Linked DNA regions of Homo sapiens: region 2 is linked to region 1. The links come from fine-mapping of genetic effects on gene expression. A gene starts in region 1. The other region holds a variant in brackets. All regions are shown on one strand. Distances are from middle to middle.

What was found.
Region 2: its variant is fine-mapped to the expression of ANKRD26 in Th1/17 cells (Schmiedel 2018, PIP 0.95).

What each region holds. Positions count from the first base shown.
Region 1 is chr10:27,099,083-27,101,998 of GRCh38, reverse strand. It overlaps ANKRD26 (ankyrin repeat domain containing 26), which reads left to right and starts at 1,505. Exons shown (of 34, transcript NM_014915.3): 1 at 1,505-1,914. The coding sequence starts at 1,673. RefSeq lists a silencer at 1,659-1,838 and an enhancer at 2,009-2,068.
Region 2 is chr10:27,385,929-27,388,844 of GRCh38, reverse strand. No RefSeq gene overlaps it. Among named protein-coding and RNA genes, the nearest start is that of PTCHD3, 27 kb to the left of the region's middle. The variant T/AT (reference allele first, on the strand shown) is at 1,121.

The sequences.
Region 1 (2,916 bases):
TCGTGGTCTCCATCCAAGAGTCTCCACTCCAGAGGCAGTGGTGTGAACCTCTGCCTCCCAGGTTCAAGTGTTTCTCCTGCCTCAGCCTCCCGAGTAGCTGGGACTACAGGCATGCACCACCACACCCAGCTAATTTTTGTATTTTTAGTAGAGACGGGGTTTCACCACGTTGGCCTGGTCTCGAACTCCTGACCTCAGGTAATCCACCCACCTCGGCCTCCTAAAGTGCTGGGACTTGACTAGCTTCATAGATCACCTTGGGGAGTGTTGAGGAGACAACATAACTTTCTAGCTGGGGTAGTGTAGGAGGAAAATTCTTGGTGACGATAGTGGAAACCACTCTCCCACATCAAAACCATTTGATCTAGCTAAGCTGGAGAGGCCTGAGAAGTGTTGTTTTGTTTTTGCTCATTTCTCACTTGGCAATAAAGACGCCTGTTCTGGGGCCAGCCACCTCCTCCACAAGGGACCCTAGAGCTGTCCAGAGCTATGGAGGTGCATTCCAGCAGCAATTTCTGCTGAGACTCCACTTGACGTCTGCGTTGCTAATTCCAATTTGTTGTCAAATTATTCAATCTAGGCTGGGCGTGGTGGTTCACACCTGTAATCCCAGCACTTTGGGAGGCTGAGATGGGAGCATCATTTGAGCCCTGGAGTCGGAGACCAGCCTGGGCAACATGGTGAGACCCTGTCTCTACAAAAAATGCAAAAATAGCCGGGCGTGGTGGCTTGCGTCTGTAGTCTCAGCTACTCACTCAGGAGGCTGAGGTGGGAGTATCGTTGAGCCCAGGAGGTGGAGACTGCAGTGAGCCGTGATTGCACCACTGCACTACAGTCTGGGCGACAAAGCGAGACTCTGTTGGGGAAAAAAAAAAAAAAAAGAAGAAAGAGATGTAACCTTGGAAAATCAAAAGCAAAAAATAAAACATAAGGCTGGGCCAAAGGCAGAGGGGTGGGGGAAGGAGGCATGCAGAAATGCGTTCTCATTTCTTCTGGAGAATGTGCATTGGTTTCTCCTCGTAAGTTTGCACTTGACACATATTGCCACGATCTCCGAAATCCTGTGCCCTCTGCACTTGACACATATGCCACGATCTCCGAAATCCTGTGCCCTCTGTTGTTGCATCTGTTAAGTTCTCATGGAGACCAGATGGCACCCAAAGGGACATGGAAGGGGAATAAACTGAGAGATAGGGAGATTCAGAGAGTTTCTTAGGGGAGTTTTCTCGGAGAAGAGGCTTTCAGCATCTTAAAACTCCACGCTACTCCAGTCCCAGTCATGCGTAAAGGCTGCTTCCCCACAGGCGCGAGGCTTCTTTTCGCAAACGTCCTGAACACTCAGCCAGACTCCCACCGACATTTGTTTGACAGGAACGCAGGGCTCGTCCCAGTCGCCGAGATTTGCGAGGTCTGGGCCTTGCACATGCGCATGGAGCACACTTGACCACTGGGCCTTCGTGCGCACGCGCGTGGACCTTGCCATCTGAGGTGCGCATGCGCACTTGTGTCTAGCGGGATCGCTTGCTTGGTAACCCGGAGGGAGAGATTGGAAACCGCGGAGTTTCCTTTGGGAGGCTGCGGCCAGCCGGGGCTGACTTGTTATGTTGGGCTCCGGAGGCCGTTAAGAGCCGAGAGAGACATGAGGTGTCTCTGAAGCCCGGTCGCCTGGGCCATGAAGAAGATTTTTAGTAAGAAGGGCGAGTCGCCCTTGGGCTCCTTCGCGCGGCGGCAGAGGAGCAGCGCGGGAGGCGGGGGCGAGCCGGGGGAGGGCGCCTACTCGCAGCCCGGCTACCACGTCCGAGACCGAGATCTCGGCAAGATCCACAAAGCTGCCAGCGCGGGTAATGTGGCGAAAGTGCAGCAGATCCTTTTGCTCAGGAAGAATGGCTTGAACGATAGAGACAAGATGAACAGGTAATAGGCGTCGCAAGCCCGGACTGAGTGCCACTGGAGTAGGCGGGCAGGAAGAGGGGCCCCTTTTGTGGGAGCCACCCAGGGCCTGGATCAGCCTCCCGCGGGCTCCGTAGCCCCTGGGACGGTGACACCTTGCAGGGCTCCAGCGCCCAGGCCGCCTTTCTGAGCAGAAAAACAAAAACAGAACTCTAGCTGGTTTCCGATCCCCCCGAAATCCCTTAGAGAGCACTTAAGTGACAATTTTAAAGTGAATTAACGAACAAAAGCACGTACAGCGTTTTATTTTTAATGTACACATTTAAGATACAATGTCATACACTTATGGAAAGGTGCATAATGAGATAAGCAGTTTCCATAATATAGCAACTTCTGGGTTAAAAATTATTTCTATAAAATCTGTTATTCGTCAGGCGCGGTGGCTCGCGCCTGTAATCACAGCACTTCGGGAGGCTGAGGCGGGAGGATTGCTTGAGGCCAGGAGTTCAAGGCCAGCCTGGGCATTATAGCGAGACCCCCCCCCCCAACTCTAATAGTCTCAGCTACTTGGAAGGCTGAGGCAGGAGCATCACTTGAGCCCAGGAGTTCTAGGCTGCAGTGAGGTATGTCAGTGACAACAGAGCAAGACCCTATCTTTCAAAAAGAAAAAGAAATAAAATGCCTTTAGGAAATAGATATACAAGTAATTTGTTTTTCTCAGCATTGCTTAAGCAGTGTATTAAGGAGAACCCATAGAATGGATTTTGTGAATAAATGTCAGTGCATGATAATATGTGACCATTGAAAGTGGCAGTAGAGGCCAGGCGTGGTGGCTCGCGCCTGTAAACCCAGCATTTTAGGAGACCAAGGCAAGCGGATATCCTGAGGTCAGAAGTTCGAGACCAGCTTGGCCAACATGGTGAAACCCCGTCTCTACTAAAAATACAAAAATTAGCTAGGCATGGTGGTGGGAGCCTGTAATCTCAGCTACTCCGAAGACTGAGGCAGGAGAATCGCTTGAACCTG
Region 2 (2,916 bases), 290 kb before region 1:
CTTTATTCATAATTTCAAGAACTTGGAAGCAACCAAGACATCCTTCAACAGGCAAATGGGTAAACCGTGGTACATCAGTGTTATATTATTCCATGCTAAAAAGAAACAAGCTCTCAAGCCATGAAAGACATGAAGGAACTTTAAATATATCTTAAGTGAAAGAAGCCAATCTGAAAAGCCTACATATTGTATGATTCCTACCGTAGGACATTCTGGAAAAGGCAAAACTTTGGAGACAGTGAAAAGATCAATTGTTGCCAGGGGTTTGGGAGAGGGAGGGATAAATAGGCCGAGCACAGAGGAGTTTCAGGACAGTGAAACTGTTCTGTACAATATTGTAATGGTAGATACAAGTCATTTTGCATTTGTCAAAACCCATAGAATGTACAACACCAAGAGTAAACCCTAATGTAAACTATAGGATTCAGGTGATAATAATGTGTTAATGTAAATTCATCTTCTGTAACAAAAGTACCACTCTAGTGTGGTAGGTTGCTAGTGTGAGAGCCTGCAAGTGGGAAGGTCAGGGGGCAGGGGCTATATGGGAACTCACTGTACTTTCTGCTCAACTTCACCATGAACCTAAAATTGCCCTAAACAAAATATAAAGTATATTTTAAAAATTTCTCAAGTCATATATTTTAAATACCTTTGTTTGATAAGAATCAAAACAAAGTCCATAGTTAATGTGTCTCTTAAGACTCTTAGTCTACAAATTCTCCCTCCTCTTTTTATTTCTCCCTCTTGTAGTTTATTTCTTAAAGAAACCAGGTCATTTGTCCTGGAGAGTTAGAATCCTACATTTTGGCTTTTGTTGATGGCATTATGTTTTAGCACATTCCTCTGACCCCTTGACATGGGTAAGACAGGTTTGATCAGAGATGTGCTTCGTTTTGTTTGCTGTTTGTTTTTGCAAGGTGGCATTGTGGGCTTTCAATCCATTATGTTAGGAGGTGCTTAACGACTGGCTCTCTGTTTAAGATGGTAAAATTCACTAATGTGTTTAGGTATTGTCAGCCTGGTCCAACCATTACAAAATACTTCATCAGTTTTTTCACTTAATTATTTTAACAGCTTTGGGAGGCAGAATAATACAATAATACCCTCCAAATATGTCCAG[T/AT]TTTTTTTTTTTTTTTTTGAAATGGAATGACATTCTGTCGCCCAGGCTGGAGTGCAGTGGCGCAATCTCGGCTCACTACTGCAAACTCCGCCTCCTGGGTTCAAGCGATTCTCCTGCCTCAGCCTCTCAGTCTCCCGAGTAGCTGGGATTACAGGCACGCCCCACCATGCCTGGCTAATTTTTGTATTTTCAGTAGAGACAGAGTTTCACCACGTTGGCCAGACTGGTCTCAAACTCCTGACCTCAGGTGATCAGCCTGCCTCGGCCTCCCAAACAGCCGGGATTACAGACACACACACCATCATGCCCAGCTAATTTTTGTATTTTTAGTAGAGACGGGGTTTCACCATGTTGGCCAGGCTGGTCTTGAACTCCTGACCTCAAGTGATCCACCACCTCGGCCTCCCAAAGTGCTGGGATTACAGACGTGAGCCACCGTGCCCAGCCTTAATGGGTTTTTACTATCTTGAAGTTTCTCATGAGATTTAGTCAGATGTCAGCTGAGAATGCACACATATGAAGGTTTGACTGGGGCTGGAATCAGATCCATTTTCAAGATGGCTAACTCATATGACTGTCAAGTTGTGCTGGCTATTTGTGGGAGACCCCAGTTCCTCTCCATATGGGCCCCATCACAGGGCTGTTCCTGACAGCTGCCGGATTCCCCTGGACCAAGTGATCCAAGAGAATGGAAGCCAAAATGTCCTTTATGCTCTAGCTTAGGATGCCACACGGAATCATATCTGCTACTCCACTGGTCACACAGACCAGTTCTAATTCAATGTGCAAAGAAACAAAGTAATGAATACCAGGAGGTGATAAAAATTAGGGACCATCATAGAGGCTGGCTGTGAGTTTGTATGGATTAATTTTATCCCAGTTATGGTCACATTTTCCTTCTTCACATGTCTGGTACGTTTTTATTGGATGCTCCTTATGGAATATATGTCGTTGAGTACTAGATTTTGTTGCTTTCTCTAAATACTATTGGATCTGACAAAGTTATCTGTGTATCAGGTTGGTCTTTTCAAAGCTCATTTTTAGGACTTCTTAGGATGAATCTAGAACAGTCTTTAGTTCTAGGCTAGCTTTGCCCTACTACTAGGCACAACCCTCTGGGGTTTCTACTGAATCTCCCAGGTTTTCAATGAGGAATCTACATTCTGCCTGATCAAAAGTTAAACATCTCCCAGCTCTGTGAGAATGCTGGAGATTTAGGGTATACCTCTCTGGTTATGCTTTGCCTTGTCTCATAGAACTTCATCCTCTGCATGTGCCATATGTGGCTAAGTATTTAGTAATAGATTCTCTGGTCAAGCTTTGCAAAGCCTGACTTCATGGACATTTATCTTACACAGAGGTGACAAGGTATTTAGAGACATGCTAAAAGGGGCCCCGTGCAGATTTAGGAAGTGCTTTATCCCCATGGTACCTTCTACTCTGGCACTTTGACTTACATATTTTAGCCTGCCCAGAGCCCCTAAACTCTGCCCTATAAAGAAAATGCCATGCTCTGCCTGGATTTACCTTCATATTCTGTGGTTTGGAAAATGTCTCCATGAAGAAAATGAGGATGATTATAGGACTCACTTCATTTGTTTTCTGTCTTTCAGGGATCATAATTCTTCACTGTCTCTTGTCCGGTGCCTCAAAATCATTGTTTGACACACTTTGTCCAGTTCTTTTTTTTTTTTTTTTTTTTTTGAGACAAGGTCTCACTCTGTTGCCCAGGCTTAAGTGCAGTAGCACAATCATGACTCACTGCAGCCTCAACCTCCCAGGCTCGAGCAATCCTC